Linked DNA regions of Homo sapiens: region 2 is linked to region 1. The links come from fine-mapping of genetic effects on plasma protein levels. A gene starts in region 1. The other region holds a variant in brackets. All regions are shown on one strand. Distances are from middle to middle. Region 1 holds the start of GZMM (granzyme M). Region 2 has its middle 4.1 kb from the start of CDC34.

Region 1 (16,307 bases):
GGAGGCTGAGGCAGGAGAATGGCGTGAACCCAGGAGGTGGAGCTTGCAGTGAGCCGAGATTGCACCACTGCACTCCAGCCTGGGGGACAGAGCGAGACTCGAATCTCAAAAAAAAAAAAAAGAGACTGGACTTGGGTACTTGGCTAAGGAGGGGCTTCGGGGCAGGGGGTTGTGTCTGGACCCAGGTGCCGGGAACAGGGGCGTGCCTGGTTTGTGAGTTATGAGGCTCTTCACTTGTGACCTGAGAACCTTCCACTGCCAATGATGCCATAAAAAGTTAAAGATTAGGCCGGGCGCGGTGGCTCACACCTGTAATCCTTTAGGAGGCTGAGGTGGGAGGATTGCTGGAGCCCAGGAGTCTCTAAAAAAATAACATAAAAAAATTAAAAAAGTTAAAGATTAAAAATGCACTTGCCTCTCCCAAAAACACTGTGACTCCAGTCCAATCGAGAGAAAAACATGAGATAGCTGGCGGGTGCAGTGGTCCACACCCGTAATCTACATAAATCCCGTCCAGCCGGCCTCCAGACACGGAGTTCTGAGAAACGGTCGGAGCCTGGGGGTGCCGAGGAGAGGCTGCGGCGAAACGGCAGGTTCGGTCCCGGGTGGGACCCTGTGCAGGAAGAGACATTAGGGGAAACTGAGGAAATCCGAGCCAAGAGTAGGTCCTTAGTAGTTAATCACGCATTCATGTGAGTTCGTCAGCCGTGACTCCTGCTGACTGGAGAGGGGAGCGGCCAGGAGCCTGGGGGCGGGGACGCGGGGGACCCTGTGGATACAGCCGCCACACATCTCCTGCAGACCAAAAATGGTTTTAAAAATTAAGTCTATTACAACACTAACCCGGCCGGGCACAGTGGCTCATACCTGTAATCCCAGCACTTTGGGAAGCCGAGGCGGGTGGATTATTTGAGGTCAGGAGTTCGAGACCAGCCTGACCAATATGGTGAAACCCCGTCTCTAGTAAAAATCCAAAAAAATTAGCTGGGCTTGGTGGTGGACCCCTATGATTCCAGCTACTTGGGAGGCTGAGGCTGCACTCCAGCCTGGGCAACAGAGTGGGAACTGTCTAAAAATAAAATAAAATAATAAAAAACCATTAACGTGGGCACAGTGGCTCATGCCTGTAATCCCAGCACTTTGGGAGGGCGAGGTGGGCGGGTCACCTGAGGTCAGGAGTTCAAGACCAGCCTGGTCAACGTGGTGAAACCTGTGTTTCTATTAGTCTCTACTAAAAATACAAAAAAAGTTAGCTGGGCGTGGTGGTGCACGTCTGTGATCCCTCAGCTACTCAGGTGGCTGAGACACAAGCATCGCTTGAACCTGAGATGGCTTGCAGTGAGCCGAGATCGTGCCACTGCACTCCAGCCCGGGTGACGCACTGAGACTCCATCAGAAGAAAAGAAAGGAAAATAAAAGAAAAAAAGAAAAGAAAAGAAAGAAAGAAAGAAAGAAAGAGAGGAGGGGAGGAGAGGGGAGGGGAGGAGAGGGGAGGGGAGGGGAAGGGGAGACGGGGAAGAAAGGAAAGAAAGGAAAGAAAGAAAGAGAGAGGAGGGGAGGGGAGGGGAGAGAAGGGGAAGGGAGGGAAAGAGAAGAAGGGGAAGGGAGGGAAAGAGAAGAAGGGGAAGAAAGGGAAGAAAGAAAAGAAAAGAAAGAAAGAGTTGGTAGTGAAATTAAAAGATTCTGCAGGAAAACAGCGCGGCGCTGAAACAGAGTCACTGAACAGCCCGAGATGCCACTCCCACGGGTCTAATCTGGAGGGAGGAAGGAGCAGGTAGGTCCACACGAAAACGCACACAGGCGGCTCCCAGCAAAGCTTCAGACGGACGGACGCAGACGAAGCCGCCCAGATGTGCACCCAGGGACGCACCCACAAACGCAGCGAGGCCCCCCTCGAGCTGGAGCTCGACCCCCCGGAGCAGGAGCACGGCTCGGACCCAGCCAGCGCGCGGGTGCAGCTTGAGGACGTCACGCTCAGCGGGAGACGCCAGACACAGAAGGCCACGCAGCGTGATCCCCTGTCCATGAAATGTCAGCACAGGCCCATCCAGAGACAGGGAGGGGATGTGAGGGCACCGGGGCTGGGGTGGGGACGGGGAGTGACGGCCGATGGGGACGAGCCTCCTTTTGGGGTGCTGGGGTGACAGTGGGGACAGAGTCTATTTTCGGGGTGCTGGAATGACAATGGGGGTGGGGCTTCCTTTTGGGGTGCTGGGGTGATAGAGATGGGGCCTGTTTTCGGGCTGCTGGGGTGACAGTGGGGACAGGCCTGTTTTCGGGCTGCTGGGATGACAGTGGGGACGGGCCTGTTTTCGGGGTGCTGGGGTGACAGTGGGGACAGGGCTGTTTTCGGGGTGCTGGGGTGACAGTGGGGACAGGCCTGTTTTCGGGGTGCTGGGGTGACAGGGGGACAGGCCTGTTTTCGGGGTGCTGGGGTGACAGGCCTGTTTTCGGGGTGCTGGGGTGACAGTGGGGACGGGCCTGTTTTCGGGGTGCTGGGGTGACAGTGGGGACAGGCCTGTTTTCGGGGTGCTGGGGTGACAGTGGGGACAGGGCTGTTTTCGGGGTGCTGGGGTGACAGGACTGTTTTCAGGGTGCTGGGGTGACAGGGGACAGGCCTGTTTTCGGGGTGCTGGGGTGACTGGGGACGGGCCTGTTTTCGGGGTGCTGGGGTGACTGGGGACGGGCCTGTTTTCGGGGTGCTGGGGTGACTGGGGACGGGCCTGTTTTCGGGGTGCTGGGGTGACTGGGGACGGGCCTGTTTTCGGGGTGCTGGGGTGACATGTCACGGTGGTGGTTGCCCAGCTCTGTGCAGGTACCAAAGGCCCCTGAATCGCAGTTTACAGGGAGACTCATCTGCTATGTGAGTTGTAACTTGATAAAAGCTGTTACTAAAAAAGAAGATCCTGGGATGCTGTTCAAGGCCCAGCCCCAGGAGCCACGCGGGGAGGACGGCCGCCCACCCCTGCCAGCCTGCAGACCCGGCCACCGCTCCAGTCCTGGCCAACGCCGCCCCCTCCTGGGAGAAGCCTTGGGATCCACAACCTCCCTTTTTAAAACAGGGAAGGGCCGGGCGCGGTGGCTCACGCCTGTAATCCCAGCACTTTGGGAGGCCGAGGTGGGCAGATCACAAGGTCAAGAGTTGGAGACCAGCCTGACAAACATGGAGAAACCCCTTCTCTACTAAAAATACCAAAAGTTAGCCTGGCGTGGTGGCGGGCGCCTGTAGACCCAGTTACTCGGGAGGCTGAGGGAAACAGGTTTGTCGGAAGCCCCACAGCCAGCATGGACAGAGGTGGGCTGGGACTCAGGCGGGCTCTGAGCGTTTCTTCATTATGATTTATTGGTCCCTCCCTGTCCCTCCCACCCGTCCTCACCCACCCCACTGCACCCCTGGAGGGGAAGGGTCCTGTGGAGACAGCGAGGGGGTCCCCATCACCCCAGGGCATCAGGCCGATCGGCCGGTGACCTTCCTGATCCAGGACACGTAAGGCGCCACAGCGGTGGCCACGGGAGGCTTGAAGATGTCAGTGCAGACCCTGGAGCTGAAGGACAGGACTCTGGCCAACACCCGGCCTTTGCCACACACCAGGGGCCCGCCCGAGTCACCCTGCAGGGACGACACACCGCAGCTCAGCCTCTGCACCTGCTGAGGGGACGAGGGGAGCAGGGCCCGCCGAGGGGAGCAGGGCCAGGCCTGTTATCCCCAGGCTCAAGGAGACACAGGGGCTGCTCCCGGCCCACGCGTGTCCCCTCCCCATCTCCCGCTGGCCCTGTGAACCCTGCTCCTTCTTCCCCCGCCGGACCGTCTTGGCTGGAGCAGAAGTCACAGCTCTGCCGCTTCCCGGCTGTGTGGTCTTGCGCAGGTTGCTAAACCTGTCTGAGCCTCAGTTTCTGCACCTGAGAAACGGGACCCCTGCCAGTGCTTCCCCGCCCCCCAGCCCCTGACAGGACTCCCCAGAGAACGGGAGAGCCAGGAACCTGCCCGGCGGCTGCCCTGGCCCCGGCCCTCCCGCCAGCCTCATTCCCCCAGCCCCACCCGGGCGCCCCTCACCTTGCAGGGAGCCTGGTCCTTGGAGTCGGCCGCCAGGCAGACCATGCTGGGGGAGAGGCTGCCGTTCCAGAAGCGGCTGTTGTTACACATGCGGGTGTCCAGCACTTGGAGGTCCAGCTCCCGCAGCACCCGGGACAGGCGCCCGCCCTGGTGGGTCAGCCCCCAGCCGGCCATGCTGCACCGAGTCCCTGCTGCCACCACCTGGCGCTTACTGGGCAGGGCCAACGGCCGGATGGTCCGGCTGGGCTTCACTTTCCCGTCCAGCTACGAGTGACAGGAAGGGGCAGGTGAGCAGGGGGAGGGGGTGAGAGTGCGGGGGCGGGGGGCGGCAGCGGGGGGAGGGGTGGCAGTGGGGGGAGGGTGGGCAATGGGGGAGGGGGCAGTAGTGCGGGGGGAGGGGCAGCAGTGCGGGGGGAGGGTCGGCAGCGGGGGGAGGGCGCAGTGGGGGTGAGGGGCACCCGTGGGGGACAGGAGGGTGCCCAGTTCTCCCTGTCCCGTCCCTGCACACCTGAAGCAGCGCGAGGTCGTTCTCCAGGGCAGGGACGGGCTTGTAGCGAGGGTGCTGGATGGCTGCCTTGATGTGGAAGGTGAGACCGGGGCTGTCCAGGGTGTGGAGCCCCAGCACCAGCCTCAGCTGGGCCATCCTGGGGACAGAGGGAATCAGGGTGCTGCGGCCTGGCCCGGCGTGGACGACCCGCCACATGCAGTCCCGGCCCCCACTGTGCCCGTTGTCCATGGCCATCACTCACAGCCGCTGCCCCTCACAGGCCTTGGCTTGGCCAGTCCTTCCCTGTGTCTTTGCAACCCACCTCCTCCAGGAAGCCCTCCCTGCTCTCACCCCTGCCCCAGACTTCTGCCCGGCCCTGGCCCCAGGCAAGGGCTGTGTGTCCAAAAATCCAACCCCAAGCCTACAGCTTCACGAAAACCAGCCCTGGGAATTCCCTTCACTTGGGGCCCCAGGCTCAACCACAGTGATTTGTACAGGGGTTGACACATGCCAATCCTCCTAAGTGTGCCCCAACTTTAGAGAGCCAAGCCCTCTTTCCATGGGACTGAGGAGGGTCAATCTTTCCACCTTGTGAGACAGGCTTCCTGGTAGTGCAGCAGAGCTGGGAGACAGATGGGCTCCACAGCGCCTCCTGTGAGCACCTGGATCAAGCCGCACCTGAAGCCAGGCCTCCTCCTAGACTTTGCAGTTACACAAGCCGGCAGATCCCTTTTTGTTACTTTGACCATCTTGATCTGGGCTCTGTATGACGGACCAGTCCTGAGGTAGGGCAACTCCATGATGGGTCATTTAGCGGCTTCCTGATCCCCGGGAACCAGGTCGATTCCCGAGCCACTCTCGAAGGCCGGCTTCGACCTCCTGGCCACAGGTGGCAAACACCCCCACCTGACCCTCCTTCCTTATAGCAGAAGCCCCCGCCTAAGTTGGGTCCATCAGCAGGTGAATGGACAGACACAATGCACTCTGTCCACACCAGGACTGTGGCTCAGCCGTGAAAGGAGCCAGGCTCTGACCCAGGCTGCGGTGTGGAAGGAGCTGGCCCTGCCAGTGCCTCTTGCAAGGAGTAAACCTTCTCCAGGAGTCCCACAGCCGCAGGTCACTTAAACCTGCCTAAGTCGTCACCGGGAGGGGACGGGGGTCCCACAATGGGCCTAAATCTCCCAGAGCCCACCCCCTGCAGAGAATGGGCGCCGTCGGATGGATTCCCCGGACCCCTGGGGTGGGCAGGGCAGGGTACTCACCGCTGGGCCAGGCAGTGGGCAGCCGTCAGCACCCACTTTGGGTGCACCAGGACACCCCCGCACAGGTGGGAGCCATTTCTCTGCAGTGAGGCCATGTACGGGCGCGAGTGGGGGATCACCTCCCGGCCCCCGATGATCTGGGTCCCAAAGGAGCTGCCTGCCAGGATGGGGGACAAAGAGCCAGGTTGGGGCTACATGCCCCTGCTGCCTGCTGCGACTGTCCTTGCCCAGCTCAGAGGCCCAGGACCCCAAGCAGATGTGCCATCCTAATGAAGTCCCCAGTGTTCCCCGAAACTTTTAGGCTGATACGTGTGGGCTGCCCTTCATCCCTCCCATCCCCCTCTCATCACCCCCATCATGTTCCCCCCAGGCCACCTCCCAATCCCCTCTCCAGGACCTCCCCAGGCCCCACTGGGCCCCACAGCCACAGGAGTCCTTCAAAACGCACATCAGGCCGGATGTGGGTGGCTCACCCCTGTGATCCCAGCACTTCGGGAGGCTGAGGAGGGAGGATCACTTGAGGCCAGGAGTTCGAGACCAGCCTGGGCGACACAGCAAGACCCAGTCTCTTAAAAAAAACTTTTTTTTTCTTTTTTTTTGAGACAGAGTCTCGCTCTGTCACCCAGGCTGGAGTGCAATGGCACGATCTCGGCTCACTGCAAGCTCCGCCTCCTGGGTTCATGCCATTCTCCTGACTCAGTCTCCCGAGTAGCTGGGACTACAGGCACCTGCCACCACGCCTGGATAATTTTTGTATTTTTAGTACAGATGGGGTTTCACCATGTTAGCCAGGCTGGTCTCGAACTCCTGACCTTGTGATCCACCCATCTCAGCCTCCCAAAGTGCTGGGATTACAGGTATGAGCCACTGCACCTGGCCATTTTTTTTTTTTTTTTGAGATGGAGTCTCACTCTGTTACCCAGCCTGGAATGCAGTGCCGTGATCTCAGCTCACTGCAACCTCTGCCTCCTGGGTTCAAGCGATTCTCCTGCCTCAGCCTCCCGAGTAGCTGGGATTACAGAAGCGCATCACCACGTCCGGCTAATTTTTTTGTATTTTTAGTAGCGACAGGGTTTCGCCGTGTTGGCCAGGCTGGCCTCAAACACCTAACCTCAGGTGATCCACCCTCCTTGGCCTCCCAAAGTGCTGGGATGACAGGCGTGAGCCACTGTGCCCAGCAAGAAATGTAGTCTTTAAATAAGTAAATTGTATAGTGCATAATTTCCTAATAAAGCTGTACAAAAATTATTTTAAATCAATCATAAATATAAAAGGATTGATTTCATAATGTAACGTAAATCAGCTCAAAATCTTCTCTGAATCCCCATCATGCTTTGAAAATCAAGTCCCCGCTTGCGGGCCGGTGCAGTGGCTCACGCCTATAATCCCAGCACTTTGGGAGGTCAAGGTGGGCAGACAGCCTGAGGTCAGGAGTTGGAGATCAGCCTGGCCAATGTGGTAAAACCCCGTCTGTACTAAAAATACAGAAATTAAGGCCGGGTGCGGTGGCTCACGCCTGTAATCCCAGCACTTTGGGAGGCCGAGGCAGGTGGATCACGAGGTCAGGAGATCGAGACCATCCTGGCTAACACGGTGAAACCCCGTCTCTACTAAAAATACAAAAAATTAGCCGGGCGAGGTGGCGGGCATCTGTAATCTCAGCTACTTGGGAGGCTGAGACAGGAGAATCGCTTGAACCCGGGAGGCAGAGGTTGTGGTGAGCCGAGATCGTGCCATTGCACTCCAGCCTGGGCAAGAATAGCAGAACTCCATCTTAAAAAAAAAAAATAGGCCGGGCGCGGTGGCTCACGCCTGTAATCCCAGCGCTTTGGGAGGCCGAGGCAGGCGGATCACCTGAGGTTGGGAGTTTGAGACCAGCCTGACCAACACGGGGAAACCCTGTCTCTACTAAAAATACAAAATTAGCCCGGCATGGTGGCAGGCGCCTGTAATCCCAGCTACTCGGGAGGCTGAGGCAGGAGAATCGCTTGAAACCAGGAGGCGGAGGCTGCAGTGAGCCGAGATGGCACCATCGCACTCCAGCCTGGGTGACAAGAGTGCAAGTCTAGCTGTGCCTGCAAGCTGCCTGCACCCTGGGCCTTTGTCTGTCTCACTTAGCTGCCTGCGTACCTTTCCCCCACCGGCTTCCTCCCTTGGTTTATGCTCGTCTCCTGCAACGGCCCCCCACCCGCCCTCTTGCCCTCCGTGTTTCCTCCGCTCTGCACAGTCTCATGCCTGGCCTGTCTCTTCCAGTCAGACAGGAGGGCAGGCCTAGAACAGCACGAGCCCTGCAAATACGGATGGATACACAGAAGCACGGGAGAAAGGAAGGAGGGATGGAAGGAGGAATGGATGATGGATGGATGGGAGGGAGGAGGGAAGGAGGGGGGAAAGGAAGAGAGAGGCATGATGGATGGATGGGTGGATACATGGAAGGAGGGAGGGAAGGATGACGGGTGGAGGGAAGGAGGGAGGTTGAAAGGAGGGATGGATGATGGATGGACGGGTGGGTGGAAGAATGGGAGGAAGGAGGAATGATGGGTGGATGGACTGGCGGAGGGAAGGAAGGGGGAACGAAAGGAGGGAGGGAGGGATGGATGATGGACCCATGGGTAGAGGGATGGATGATGGATGGGTGGGTGGAAGAATGGAAGGAGGAATGATGGGTGGACGGACGGGTAGAGGGAAGGAAGGGGAGATGAGGGAGGGAGGGAGGGAGGGAGGGAGGGATGATGGACCCATGGGTGGAAGGAAATAAAAATGGGAGGAAGGATGATGATGACTGACGGCTGGATTCCTACCTCTGTCCATCTTCTTGGGTCCCCAACTCATCAAGAGCCCCTGTCACTCAGTCCAGCTGGAATGCAGGGGAGCCGCCACCCACCTCCCTTCTCCCTCACTGCTGGGCACCTAGTCCCAGCCAAGCCCTTGGTGGTGGCAGGCAGCCAGCGGGGATCGAGTCCCAGCTCTGCCCTCCCAGCTGGGCAGTCCTAGGTCAGCATCTCCTTCGCCAAGTCTCAGTCTCCTACTCTGCACCTCGGGTGTGAGCGTGACCCCTGCCTTCTGGCTGCTGCCGGGAGGATGGGCGAGGTGAGCCGGTGGACACCACACTCTCCCACGGTCCCGGGATGTCCACTCGGGGTGAAGCGTGAGGAGCTCGGGATGCCCCAGGCCTCAGTCCCCCTCCAAACAAGGATGAATCTCCGCTCTTACACCCAGGATGTCGGCGCCCGCGCCCACCCCTCCCATCCAGGGACCCACCGAGAGCGCTGGGCCTCAGTGTCCCCCCTGCATCCCGGCTCCCACTCACCTACTGACAGGGCCCCCAGGGCCAGCACCAGCAGTGAAGACACGCAGGCCTCCATGCCGCTGTGGAGACCCAGTGTGGGTGCTGGCCCCGGCCCCGAGCCTCCCCACACGCGCTTCCTGTGGGGGAGGTGAGGTGACGGTCACAGCCCCGCCCACCGCTGCACACCCTCCACCCTCCATCCTTGAGCATTTTAGAAAGTGTTTCTCAAAGAGGACTCGAGATGAAGCCACACTACCATCATCACACCTGACAAAGTAACACTTTTTTTTTTTTTTTTTTTTCAGAGATGGAGTCTCGCTCTGTCGCCCAGGCTGGAGTGCGGTGGTGCGATCTCGGCTCACTGCAAGCTCCGCCTCCCGGGTTCACGCCATACTCCGGCCTCAGCCTCCCGAGTAGTGGGACTACAGGTGCCCACCACCACGCCCGGCTAATTTTCGTATTCTTAGTAGAGACGAGGTTTCACCATGTTGACCAGGCTGGTCTCAAACTCCCGACCTCAGGTGATCCACCCACCTCGGCCTCCCAGTGCTGGGATTACAGGCATGAGCCACCGCGCCCGGCCACTACTTCCTGCCTCTGAATTGGTCTCTAGGGACCTCCCAGGAGTGGAATCACACAGGACCTGTTGCGTTGGCGTCTCTCCCAGCATGACGTCCTCAAGGTGCATCCAGGCTGTGGCCTGTGTCAGAGCCTCGCTCCTTTTTGTGGCTGTGTCACATCCCATTGTGTGGCTGGACCACGCTGTGTTTATGCATTCACCAGCGGACGGATATTTGCGCTGTTCTAGTTTTTGGTCTTCATGAATAAAGACACTGGCCGAAGGCGGTGGCTCACACCTGTAATCCCAGCACTTTGAGAGACTGGGGCAGGAGGATCGCTTGAGCCCAGGTTGGGGCTGCAGTGAGCCGTAATTGCACCACTGCTCTTCAGCCTGGGTGACAGAGCAAGACCCTGTCTCAAAAATAAATAAATTTAGGCCGGGCGCGGCGGCTCACGCCTGTAATCCCAGCACTTTGGGAGGCCGAGGCGGGCGATCACCTGAGGTTGGGAGTTCGAGACCATCCTGGCCAACATGGTGAAACCCCATCTCTACTAAAAATACAAAAATCAGCTGGGCATGGTGGTGGGAGCCTGTAGTCCCAGCTACTCAGGAGGCTGAGGCAGGAGAATCACTTGAACCCAGGAGGCGAGATCGCACCACTGCACTCCAGCCTGGGCAACACAAGACTGTGTCTCAAAAACAAAACCAAACCAAACCAAGCAGCTATGGATGATCCTGAGACCTGGGTGTGGCTGTGCCAGTAACACTTCACTCACAATAGGGGCGGACGCCAGGTTTGGTCCCGAGGGCCATGGTTTGCTGAGACCCCAGGGCCCCATTTTCTGTCCCAACTTGGTGGGAAACCTCATCCTCACAGCTCCTCGACCCTGAATCAGCCACTGAGCGACTTTCCGGGTGCCCAGAAGCGGAACGCAGGCAGGTTCCTGGAAGGCGGTGCCCCGGGAGGGCATGGGAGCTCCGAGCTTTCCTCCATGACATGTAATAAAACGATGCTGGGGACTTCCTGACACCAGGACGTGAGGTGCCTGCCCTGTGTGCCCAGGGCCACGGCTCCCCACCCCGAGGGTGTGCCTGGACGGAGCTGGAGCCGCCGGAGTGCTGATCGGGGGCATCTGTGGTCCTGGGAGCCCTGAGACGCTGAGATCAACGCCCAGGCGGCTGTGGACCCGCGACGAAGCTTTGCTGGATGCCTGCAGAGGCAGCTCCCGTCCCACTAGATGCACCTGGTCACAGGGAGGAGGAACTCTGGGGGCTTTCTGGCCGCCCCTGTCCCGCAGGCTGGGGGATGCTGCCCAGGCCTGTCTGACCCAAGTCATGGGAACGTACAGGCCGCGGGACCCGGCTGCTCCCCGTGCCTCCCAGGACAGGCCTCCCAGATCCACACCTGGCGTAGCCAGGGTCCCAGTGGGACTGGCCGTGTGCAGTCACTCATGGACGTGGAGGCTGCCTCTCCCTCCCAAGCACAGCTTCTCTGGCCTCTCATAAAGTAGTTTTATTTAGATTTCAAACAAACCAAAGCAGGGAAAAGAGTCGGCCACGGTGAATCCGTCCACTCTGTGCTGGACGTGGCTCCAGGACCTGGAGCTGACAGGCAGGACCGGGCCCCTCGGACCGCTACACCTGGGCCTCCCAGGCTGGTAGTGTCAGGAAACGGCCCCCCGCCCACGTTCCCAGCAGCGCCCCCGTGGCTCCTCCGGGGTGCGGCCAGTCCGGAAGCTGGGGGACCCCGGTAGAAGTCGGGCTCAGCTCCCCTCCCGAGGGGACAGGTGGGCCGGCCGCTCCCACCCTGGGCCCGTCCACCGAGCCCCGAGTGACGTGAGTGGCGGTGGGGCAGCCCCTCTTCTCTGAAGCACGTGAAAACCCAGAACAGACATGGGGAGGGAGAAAAAGCCAAAACGAAACAACCAGAGGAGACGGGGACCAGCACAAAACCTCCGTGAGGTAGTCTGTCGTCTAAGGAGCCACGGGTCCGGCCCTAGTGAGGTAAACTCGGCAAGTTTATTCTGGTGGTGTCAGGACTCCTCCGTGCCAGAGTCATCCTCATCGTCCCCGAAGCAGCTGTCGGCCTCCTCCTCCACCTCGCCGTCCTCGTAGTAGTCGTCGTAGAAGAGGTCTGAGCCCTCGTCGGGCGCCGGCGCCTTGGTCTTCACGCAGTACTCGGCCAGCGTGGTGGGCACCTTCACGCCGTCACGCTCCGCGTCCACCTTGGTCCCCAGGACCTGCTTCCTGGGGGGACAGGGTGGGTGAGGGCGCCACCCACGTGCCTGGACTCGGCCCCTGCCCGGCCCCCCTCCCCCAGGTCCGACGCTCACCCCAACGCTCAGGTTTCTCTTAAAACGGCGTGTGGCGACCACTTAGGACAAAGCCCTGTGCGTGAGGAACTCCAGGGGGAGAAATGACAGAGGAGGGGGCTCGGGAAGGGCAGGAGGTGCGGGTGGGAGGCTGGACGGGCGCAGTGCAGTCACACCCGCCTGCCCCGCCCCGAAGCACAACCCAAGGGACCCATCAGGAGCTGGGAGAAAATAACGATGCCGGCAACAGGGAGGGCCCATGCTGCCCCACTGGGGGGCAAAAGCCTTCCTCAGCGCAGGAGCAAAGGAAGCAGCTGGGAGGGCCCAAGGACAGGAGGCAGGACCATCCCTGGAGACGGGAACCAGCACAGGTGAGATGGGAAACGCAAAAACGGCCTGAGCCTCTCCGTGGCCTCAGCAGGATTCTAAACCCGGGGGCCTGGCCACCCCGGCCTCCGGATTCTAAACCGGGGGGCCTGGCCATCCCAGCCTCTGGATTCTAAACCCGGGGGCCTGGCCATCCCAGCCTCCGGATTCTAAACCCGGGGGCCTGGCCACCCCGGCCTCCGGATTCTAAACGTGGGGGGCCTGGCCACCCCGGCCTCCGGATTCTAAACCCGGGGGGCCTGGCCACCCCGGCCTCCGGATTCTAAACCCGGGGGGCCTGGCCACCCCGGCCTCCGGATTCTAAACCCGGGGGGCCTGGCCACCCCGGCCTCCGGATTCTAAACCCGGGGGGCCTGGCCACCCCGGCCTCCGGATTCTAAACCCGGGGGGCCTGGCCACCCCGGCCTCCGGATTCTAAACCCGGGGGGCCTGGCCACCCCGGCCTCCGGATTCTAAACCCGGGGGGCCTGGCCACCCCGGCCTCCGGATTCTAAACCCGGGGGGCCTGGCCACCCCGGCCTCCGGATTCTAAACCCGGGGGGCCTGGCCACCCCGGCCTCCGGATTCTAAACCCGGGGGGCCTGGCCACCCCGGCCTCCGGATTCTAAACCGGGGGGCCTGGCCACCCCGGCCTCCGGATTCTAAACCCGGGGGGCCTGGCCACCCCGGCCTCCGGATTCTAAACCCGGGGGGCCTGGCCACCCCGGCCTCCGGATTCTAAACCCGGGGGGCCTGGCCACCCCGGCCTCCGGATTCTAAACGTGGGGGGCCTGGCCACCCCGGCCTCCGGATTCTAAACCTGGGGGGCCTGGCCACCCCGGCCTCCGGATTCTAAACGTGGGGGGCCTGGCCACCCCGGCCTCCGGATTCTAAACCTGGGGGCCTGGCCACCCCGGCCTCCGGATTCTAAACCTGGGGGGCCTGGCCATCCCAGCCTCTGGCAGGAAGGGAGGACAAGTTAGCTCAAACTTCCTGGAGGGCACCGTGTACACCCGGCCCTATGAGGGGCTGCACCGCGCACACCAGGACCTACGAGGAACCTGCCCCCGGCTCCACCTCCAGGACACGCGTCAAGAATGTCCCCCCAGGACTGGAAGCAAAGGGGCTTCCGGGGGTGGCACAGCAGGGCCAGGCGGCACGCTGACCCCATTTGACAGAAAACAGGAACGAGGCTGCAGCCGCAGGCAATGGGCTCGAGCCCCTATCACCGACCAGGCACGGCTCTGGGCTCTGGGGCTGGCTGCTACCAGGGTGTGCGGGTCCCACAGTGCCCGCATGGGAGGGCACCAGGGAGCAGACAGACAGCCCCAAGCCCAGCCCACAAGCCCAGTGCTTTTTATGGGGATGCATGACGCGTGGAGGGCAGGCGTCTGGCCTCAGGGACGTCCCTGGGTGGCGGGACCCAGCGGACGCCAAGCTTTGCTTTCCAAGCTCTCCGATGGGCTGGGGGGGTGACTGACAGTGCCCCGGGGACGGCACTGCACGGGTGGCAGCAGTGGGGAGACGCAGGGGAGGGCCAGGGTGGACGGGCTGGGGGGGTGACGGTGCCCCGGGGACGGCACCGCAGAGGTGGCGGCTGTGGGGAGACGCAGGGGAGGGCCAGGGTGGGAACTGACCTGCACCGTGGAGGTGCCGCCGGCACACCGCCAGCATGAGCTGGAGGACGGTCTGGAGGTCCTGTTCAGCAAGACCAACATCCCTGACCAAGCCGGGCTCCACGGCAGCCTGCCCGACACAGCTCAGCGGGACTTGGGCTGCCACGAGGCCAACACGCACACAGATGAAAAAACAGGCAGAAACGGCGACCACAGCAGAGTCCACATGGCACATGTGTGTTGGCCCACAGGGAGTTTTGAGGGATAAAAATAGTGTGGCTTTTATTTCTGTGCTGGGATCTCAAGGAGGTGGTGCCTCAGGGAGGTGGCCGGGAAGAACCGGGCCAAGGAGCCAGCCACCTGGGCCAGGTGACACGACCGGACCGGGGCCACCGAGGACATCTGCACCAGAGGGACGGCCAGGGCAGCTACCCTGTGACCTCCAGAGGCCAGCAGGTGCTTGCAGGCCACTTCCCAGGAGGCCGCACGGGGCCCGCCCACCATGGCTGCTCAGAGCCGAGACCGCCCAGCACCAGGATGCTGCCCCGAGATGACCCCACGACACCAGGTACCAGCGAGTGCAGGATGGAAGGTGCCCTGGATGCTCCTGGGTCCTGGGGCGAGGAAGACACATGCATTATGTGTGCAATATTTTAAAAGTTGTTTTTAAGATTCTGTTTATACAAAATACCAACAAAAATAGGTGAGGCCTCTGTGAGGAAATCTATGCAATATCACTCTGAGAAAAAAAAAAAATGGATAGGAAGGGCCTCTATGTAACAGGAAGAGCAGGAACCATTAAGGCCGTCAACCCGTAAAGAAAGCCTTGTCTTTGTACACAGACACGCACGTGTTTACACATTCATGTGAACACAGGCACCCAAGAGAAGGGGCTGTGGGGCTCAGCTCTGGGGCATGAGGGCGATGGGAGGAGAGGGAGAGCCGTGGGTCACCACACACAGCCACGCAAGCTAAGTGGACTGCAGGTACAGAAGGCGCCGGTAGGCGACTGCACAGCTGTACCCAGAGCTCACCAGGCCAAGAGCCTGCAGGGACGCACTCCAGACATGAGTAAGGCCAACACCCCTGACTAACAGTCAGTCACTGGGCACACACAGCACGACCCCATTTTTTCATTAAAGCACAGACACATGTTCCCTAACAGTCAGTCACTGGGCACACACAGCACGACCCCATTTCTTCATTAAGGCACAGACACATGTTCCCTAACAGTCAGTCACTGGGCACACACAGCACGACCCCATTTCTTCATTAAAGCACAGACATGCGTTAAACTGAAAAGCCTGGAAGAATCTATGAAAACACTAACCACCAGGCCAGGTGCAGTGGCTCACGCCTGTCATCCCAGCACTTTGGGAGGCCGAGGCGGGTGGATCACCTGAGGTCAGGAGTTTGAGACCAGCCTGGCTAAGATGGTGAAATCCCACCTCTACTAAAAATTACAAAAATTAGCTCGGCGTGGTAGTGGGCACCTGTAATCCCAGCTGCTTGGCAGGATGAAGGGGGAGAACTGCTCCAACCCGAGTAGTGGAGGCTGCAGTGAGCCGAGATCGCACCACTGCACTGCAGCCTAGGCAAGAGAGTATAACTCTGTCTCCAAAAAAAAAAAAAAAAAAAAAGGCCGGCCGCGGTGGCTCACGCCTGTAATCCCTGCACTTTGGGAGGCCGAGGCAGATGGATCACGAGGTCAGGAGATCGAGACCATCCTGGCTAACACGCTGAAACCCCGTCTCTACTAAAAATACAAAAAATTAGCCGGGCGTGGTGACGGGCGCCTGTAGTCCCAGCTACTTGGGAGGCTGAGGCAGGAGAATGGCGTGAACCCGGGAGGCGGAGCTTGCAGTGAGCCGAGATCGCGCCACTGCACTCCAGCCTGGGTGACAGAGAGAGACTCTGTCTCAAACAAAAAAAAAGAGGAAAAGGGGCAAGAAGCTGGGCTTGAACCTGGCTGGACCCTCCGCCACTCGGCCCGGCCTCCATCTGTGACTGGCACCCTGTAAATGGGCACCAGGAAGCTCCGCCACCCTCACCAGGAAGGTGGGGCTGGGCGGCCGTGGGACCAGGGGCCGGGGTGCAGGCCGGATCTGAGTCTCTCCTCCCGTGACGCCCCCGCCCGCCCTCACCGGATGATGTCTGTGTACTCCCGATCCTTCCCCTTGCTCTCTTTCCACTTCCTGTACATCACGGAGGCGTCCACGTTTGCGGGCGAGAAGGTGTTGGGCTCGTTCAGGAGGGAGATCACACTCAGGAGAATGGTCCTGTGGGGAGAGTGGGTCGGAGTGGGGCGGCCCGGGGCACCCCAGCCTTCCGGCTCTTCTCTGGCCCTGAGGGTCACGGG
Region 2 (7,379 bases), 17 kb after region 1:
GGCGGGGCCGCGGGCGGTGAACGGGGCGCGGCGCGGGGTCCTGACCGGGACCGGAGGGGCAGGGCCGGTCCATCCGGCGCGACCCCGCGTCCCCGTCTCCGTTTCCCCGTCTGTGCAGGGGACGGGCGCGAAGTCTGTCCTAGGGTCGCGCTGGCCACGCGGAAGGGAGGAAGGGGCGGGAGCGAGGCGGGATCCGCAGACCTGGCTTCCAGGCGCGGCGCTGCCTCGGTTCCCCCGACAGCGGGAGCTCTGAGAAGTGGGCGAGGTCGGGGAGGGCTCTGAGGGGTGGGAGGGGCGAGGGCTTCCCTGGTCCCCGTTGAAGTCACCATGTGGTGTGAGGCGAGTGCAGGCGCTGGAGCCATCAGAGGTTGGCAAGGTGCTCCTGCCCCCCAGAGAAACTGGGAAAGAGGCCTACGCCGGCCAGCATCGGCTCAGCACCTGACCCGGGAGAGGCGCCAGCCCCACGGAGCCCCCACCCCAAGCTGAGCCCGAGCCTGGCTGTGCCCTCCTCCCAGCCTGACCTTTGTCCTACCCGAGTCTTTTTTTTTTTTTTTTTTTTAAATGAGACAGAGTCTCGTTCTGTGGCCCAGGCTGGAGTGCAGTGGCACAATCTCACTGCAACCTCCGCCTCCCGGGTTCAAGCTAGTGTCCGCCTCAGCCTCCCGAGTAGCTGAGATTACAGGTGCCCGCCACCACGTCCGGCTAATTTTGTATTTTAAGTAGAGATGGGGTTTCACCATGTTGGCCAGGCTGGTCTCGAACCCCTGACCTCAAGTGTGTTGTTAGGTTTTGAAAGGAAGGGGAGGATGCAGTTTGGACTAATAAAGGGATCCGTCTGCGTCGGCCTCCCAAATGCTGGGATTATAGGCATGAGCCACCGCGCCCAGCCCACCTGAGTCTTGACCCCAGCTGATTCCGGGCATCACTGTGACCCCACCTGACTTCTGACCTGGCTCAGTGGCTGCCCAGACACCCACATGCTCCTTGCTGTGAAGCTTGGTCGGGAGAACTGGCCGTGGTGAGGACGGGGCAGCCCAGCCTCCCCTGAGTCGTGCCCGTGACGGGTGGCCCTGCCCTCGGACTGTGCCAGTGGCATTGTTGCTATGCCCTGGGTACACACAGCTGCATCAACATACAGGCCGGGCACGGTGGCTCACGCCTGTGATCCCAACACTTTGGGGGGCCGAGGCGGGCGGATCACAATGTCAGGAGATCGAGACCATTGTGGCTAATATGGTGAAACCCCGTCTCTACTAAAAATACAAAAAATTATCTGGGCGTGGTGGCGGGCGCCCGTAGTCCCAGCTACTCGGGAGGCTGAGGCAGGAGAATGGCGTGAGCCCGGGAGGCGGAGCTTGCAGTGAGTCTAGATAGCGCCACTGCGCTCCAGCCTGGGCGACAGAGACTCCGTCTCAAAAAAAAAAAAA[AC/C]CAAAAACAAAAACCAGTCTGGGACCAGGGCCACTCTGTCCCGCAGGTGCCCCAACACCTGGCCCCGGCTTCATGAGTCTGGTCCCCGGAAGAGGACCAGCAGGCAAACCTGTCTGGGGAAAGGAAAACAGCATCAGGAGTGGAGAGGGAGGGAGGGATCCAAGAAAGAGCTCTGGGCCGAGCGGTCACTTCCAGAGCTGTCCAGGGCCGAGGCCGAGGCGTCCTCACCCGTAAGGGCCTCTGGGCCTCCTCCCTCAGGCCCCTCTGCCCGGCACCCTGGGGGCCTGGAGTAAAAGGAGGGTCTCGGGACTAGTGGGGCCTTCTGGCTGTGGCCCCTTCACCAAGGTTCCCAGGGTTTTGTGAGCCTCAGTCTCTTCCGTGCCACAGGTCGTGGATATATTGCCAGCATCATGGAGCCGGCAGGCAGCAGCTCATGGGTAAATTAATGCTAATTAGAATTAACCACGATTCCTTCTCTAAGGGCTCCCAAGATCTCTCTTCTTCCGTACACCCACATCCCAGGAAGCACTGTGTGGGTGAGGGAGGTTTTCTTTCTCTCGCTTTTTTTTTTTTTTTTTTTTTTTGAGAAGGAGTCTTGCTCTGTCGCCCAGGCTGGAGTGCAGTGGCACGATCTTGGCTCCCTGCAACCTCCACCTCCCGGGTTCAAGTGATTCTCCTGCCTCAGCCTCCTGAGTAGCTGGGACTACAGACGCATGCCACCACGCCCTGCTAATTTTTTGTATTTTTAGTAGAGAAGCGGTTTCACCGTGTTAGCCAGGATGGTCTTGATCTCCTGACTTCGTGATCCGCCCGCCTCGGCCTCCCAAAGTGTTGGGATTACAGGCGTGAGCCACCGCGCCCGGCCTGGGTTGGGGAGATTTTCAAGCCCCTCCAGCTGGTCCCACAGGGCCCCGACCCCCAGGGAGGCTCAGGCTCACAGCACCCGGGAGCGGTGGACACCAGGGGCTTCCACCTGCCTGCTTGGGGGCTCCCTACTCTGTGGGAACGGGTTCGAATTGGACTGACGCAAGCCCTGGCTGCAGGGAGGGGCCATCCCATCAGTTCCCAGGGCCCCCACCCTGGGCTGCAATGATTGGTTCAGGAACAAGCATGTGACTCCTGACGTCCAATGAGATTCAGCTCTGGGACATTTCTCTGGGATCACAGTGCTGGGGTGGCTGAGCTGGAAGGACCTGGGGCTGGAGTTACGGGGTCATGGTGTCACCACGGGGCCTCCGAACAAAGGCGGCATCACAGGAAAGCCGAGCCGGCTGATGAGAGGGGAAACGTTGATAATCCTATTAGTGATCCTGCATCATGCTGTTACCTGACCTCCCCTGGATGTTCCAATGATGCAAGCTCATGAATTCTTGCCTCTTAGTTCGTTTGTGTTGAGATGGAGTCTCTCTGTGTCACCCAAGCTGGAGTCCAGTGGCGCAATCTCAGCTCATTGCAACCTCTGCCTCCCAGGCTTAAGCAATCCTCCCACCTGTCTCCGAAGTAGCTAGGATCACAAGCGTGCACTGTCACACCCAGCTAATTTTTGAATTTTTAGTAGAGATGGGGTTTTACCATGTTGGCCAGGCTGGTCTCGATCTCTCAGCCTCAAGTGATCCTCCTGCCTTGGCCTCTTAAAGTACTGGAATTACAGGCGTGAGCCACCACGCCCAGCCTTTTTAGTTTATTTTCCTTTCCTCCCTCCCTGCCCCCGTTCCTGTTGCTCAGGCTGGCCTTGAACTCCTGGGCTCAAACAGTCCTCCCACCTCAGCCTCCCAGGTAGCTGGGACCACACGTGCACACCACCACAACCAGGTTAAATTCCTTCTTCGTGCCGGGCGCCGTGGCTCACACCTGTAATCCCAGCACTTTGGGAGGCCGAGGAGGGTGGATCACCTGAGGTCAGGAGTTCCAGACCAGCCTGACCAACATGGAGAAACCCTGTCTCTACTAAAAATACAAAATTAGCCGGGCGTGGTGGCACATGCCTATAATTCCAGCTGCTCGGGAGGGTGAGGCCCAAGAATCGCTTGAACCTGGGAGGCGGAGGTTGTGGTGAGTCAAGATCACGCCATTGCACTCCAGCCTGGGCAACAAGAGTGAAACTCCATCTCAAAAATAAATAAATAAGTAAAAATAAATTCCTTCTTCGTTAATTAAGCCAGTTTGAGTTAGGTTTTCCATCACATGGCAGAGAAGAACCTTAAATTCAAATCTAGTTTCTGCCACGACCTTGGAAATATCGCTCAAACATTAAACCCAGTCTCAGGTTTATTTAATTAATTTATTTATTTAATTATTTTTTTTTTGAGATGGCGTCTTGCTCTGTCACCCAGGCTGGAGCGCAGTGGCTCCATCTCTTCTCACTGCATCCTTTGCTTCCCGGGTTCAAGTGATCCTCCTGCCTCAGCCTCCCAAGTGGGTGACTTGTGCCACCATGCCAGCTAATTTTTATATTTTTAGTAGAGATGGGGTTTCACCATGTTGGCCAGGCTGGTCTGGAACTCCTGACCTCATGTGATCCACCCTCCTTGGCCTCCCAAAGTGCTGGGATTACAGACATGAGCCACCGTGCCTGGCCTATGAGTTTCAGTTTTTTATTTTATTTTATTATTTTATTTTGAGACAGAGTCTCACTCTGTTGCCCAGGCTGGAGTGCAGTGACACGATCTTGGCTCATTGCAATCTCTGCCTCCTGGGTTCAAGCAATTCTCCTGCCTCAGCCTCCCGAGTAGCTGGGATTACAGGTGCGCCACCATACTCGGCTAATTTTTGTAGTTTTAGTAGTGACGGGGTTTCGCCATGTTGGCCAGGCTGGTCTCGAACTCCTGACCTCAGGTGATCCGCCTGCCTCGGCCTCTGAAACTGCTGGGATGACAGGCATGAGCCACCGCGCCCAGCCCGACTTTCAGTTTTTTAATTTGAAAGTGGGTTAGATAAGATAGTTGTACAAAGGTCTTCCTGTGGAGCCCAAGATGTCACTGAGACTCTTACACGATGGCATCTTGCTGCTCTCATGCCTTGTAGGGAAGAAAGACAGTTCTCAGAAGGCAGAGGGGTGCATGTGGGAGGATATGGTCCTCAGGGGAGAGGGACAGGGAGCCAGGACACAGCAGCTGTGGGGCGTTGGGCAACATGGCCAGACCTCGTCTCCACAAAAAAAAAAAAAAAAAAAAAAAAAAAAAAAAAAAAATGTTTCTTAAGCAGCCAGGTGTGATGGTACATACCTGTGGTCCCAGCTACTTGGGAGGCTGAGGCAGGAGGATCGCCTGAGCCCAGGAGTTTGAGGCTGCAGTGAGCTGTGATTTTACCACTGCACTCCAGCCTGAGCCACAGAGCGAGACCCTGTCTAAAAAAAAAAAAAGGGGAAAAACGCAAAAGGCTGTGGGGCCCGTGTGCTTCCAGATGCATCAGAACAGGCTTCCAGGTCAGCTTTCCTCTGTGCAGTCCCGGGCCAGTTCCTCACCGTGGAAGAGGGAATAAGGCCCCCAAGACATCCACATCCTGATCCCCAGAATCTGTGGCTGTACCACCTCAGGTGGCAAAAGGGACTCTACAGGTGTGATAAGAACCCTGAGACGGCAGAGCATCCGGGGTGATGGGGGCCCATGTCCTCACAGGGTCCGTTTAAGAGGGCGGTGGGGGGCGGGCGCCGAGAGTCAGAGACTGGAAGAGGTTGCGCTCTTGGAGGTGAAGGGGGAGGAAGGGCCTGGAGCTGAGGGATGCGGGCGCCTCTGGACTCTGGGAAAGGAGGAAACAGGTTCTCCCTGGAGCCCCCAGGAGGGACCAGCCCTGTTCATGCCTCGATTTTAGAAGTTCTGCCTTCCAGAGCTGTGAGATGGTACGTCCACGCTAAGTCACTAAATTTGTTACTACAGCTACAGGGATTAACACACCTCAATGACTTCCAGCTTCTTCCTAGGGGAAAATTGCTTCCTTCTTTCCCTCCCTTCCTCTCCCCCTCTCTTCCCTTCCCCTCCCTTCCCCTCCCCTCCTCCTCCCCTCCCCTCTGCTCCCTTCCCCTCCCCCTCCCCTCTCTTCCCATCCCCCTCCCCTCTCTTCCTATCCCCCTCCCCTCCTTTCCCCTCCTTTCCCCTCCTTTCCCCTCCCCTCCCCTCCACTCCCCTTCCCTTCCATTCCCTTCCCCTTCCCTTCCCTTGCCCTCCTTCCCTCTCTCCTTCTCTTCCTTCTCTTCTATGTGTAAATCTAGGTTCTGGGGATTGAGCAGTGAACAAAAGCAGTAAACTTCTTGCCCTTGGGTTCACAGGGAGAGAGGCCACAAACCAGCATATAAATACATAAATAAGCAGTTTCTAAAGAATGCCAGGGGTTAGAGAGCCACCGGGATGGTGTAGGAAGGCATCTTGGACTCAGGAGGTGACATATAAGCAGAGACCCAGGTGGCGTGGGGAAGCAGCAGGCAGGTCTGCGGGAACAGTGCTGCAGGGAGAGGGAACAGCACGTCCAGGGGCCCTGAGGTGGGGACAGCCCGACTGGCTAGAGGCCCAGGGTCTGGGTGGTGAGTGCGGGACAGAGGTGAGAAGACGCTGGGGAGCCTCCCGCTCAGCTGTCCTGAGTGCCGGCTTTATTCGCAGACATGGCGGAGGTGAGGGCTGCAAAGTCTAGCCCATGCACCCAACCCAGCCGCCCAGCACTGCGCTCCCGGAAACAGCTCCCGGCTGCATCTCACTGGCCAGCTGGGTTTCTCTGAACCCATCGCTGAGGCTGGGGGAGGGATGCTTTGACTGGCTGGTGGGGACTGGGAGTCCATTTGGGCGAGGGTGTTGGCTGGACCAGCCGGGGGCGGTGAAGGGCTGGGGGTCCAGGTGGGAGAGGGTGTTGGCTGGACCAGCCGGGGGCGCGGTGAAGGGCTGGGGGTCCAGGTGGGAGAGGGTGTTGGCTGGACCAGCCGGGGGCGGTGAAGGGCTGGGGGTCCAGGTGGGAGAGGGTGTTGGCTGGACCAGCCGGGGGCGGTGAAGGGCTGGGGGTCCAGGTGGGAGAGGGTGTTGGCTGGACCAGCCGGGGGCGGTGAAGGGCTGGGGGTCCAGGTGGGCGAGGGTGTTGGCTGGACCAGCCGGGGGCGGTGAAGGGCTGGGGGTCCAGGTGGGAGAGGGTGTTGGCTGGACCAGCCGGGGGCGTGGTGAAGGGCTGGGGGTCCAGGTGGGCGAGGGTGTTGGCTGGACCAGCCGGGGGCGGTGAAGGGCTGGGGGTCCAGGTGGGCGAGGGTGTTGGCTGGACCAGCCGGGGGCAGTGAAGGGAGGGCAGGCAGGGTGCCTCAGGATGAGGTGTGGTGAGGGCCGCTGTGGAGCCCGGGAAGGCGTCTGGCCGTGGTCTCAGTGCTCAGTGGATCGGGTGAGAGGCTTCCACAGAGACCAGAAACTCTGGAGGAGCCCGGGGTCCAGGGAGCCGGCCGGAAGCTCCGTCTTGGATGTGTCAGGCTTGGGATGTCCCCAGGGAGCCAGCAGAGGACTGTTGGGAGGAGGGGAGGCCCTGGATGAAGCCACCAGAGGAGCTGGGGAGAGAGAGGAAGCTTCCAAGGGGGACTGTGGGGTGGGGCAGGAGCCTGTGGGTGCTGCCAGAGGGGATTGCCGCGCTCTATGCTGCTGTGAGGCCAGGGAGGACGCGTCAGCTTCCGGGCTGCGCTGGTAAGGGTCATGCCGGGATTAGGACAGACGGGGTCCTCGGGACCTGAGGGCGGGCACAGTGGGCGGCACAGGGTCAGGGATCAGGGGAGGCCCCGGGGAGCTGGGCGGGGCAGGGGAGGTGGGCTTCGGTCGGCCTTGGCCTCAAGGGACCGGGGCGGAGTGTGAGGTGCACCCTGGGACCAGCTTTGGTGTCCTCTGATTGGTCACTCCTGGAAGCCTCCGTGCCCTGCGTCCCTGTCCGGGTGTCCAGGATTTAAGCCCACCTCAGCCTGCCTGGCTGTGGGCTTCGGGAGGACAGGGGCCTCTCCT

Evidence for each region. A credible set is the group of variants that fine-mapping cannot tell apart. PIP is the chance, under the fine-mapping model, that this variant and not a neighbour inherited with it causes the effect. Protein levels are from the aptamer-based SomaScan assay of Sun 2018.
Region 2: its variant is the best candidate, but not a certain one, in a credible set for the plasma level of the GZMM protein (Sun 2018, PIP 0.90).

What each region holds. Positions count from the first base shown.
Region 1 is chr19:536,933-553,239 of GRCh38, reverse strand. GZMM (granzyme M) reads right to left here and starts at 9,187. Exons shown (of 5, transcript NM_005317.4): 1 at 9,114-9,187; 2 at 5,804-5,960; 3 at 4,563-4,698; 4 at 4,055-4,318; 5 at 3,318-3,610. The coding sequence starts at 9,168. The coding sequence ends at 3,449. CDC34 (cell division cycle 34, ubiquitin conjugating enzyme) reads right to left here. Exons shown (of 5, transcript NM_004359.2): 4 at 16,093-16,227; 5 at 11,153-11,901. The coding sequence ends at 11,688. RefSeq lists an enhancer at 9,174-9,819.
Region 2 is chr19:524,005-531,383 of GRCh38, reverse strand. No RefSeq gene overlaps it. Among named protein-coding and RNA genes, the nearest start is that of CDC34, 4.1 kb to the left of the region's middle. RefSeq lists a silencer at 1-119. The variant AC/C (reference allele first, on the strand shown) is at 1,428.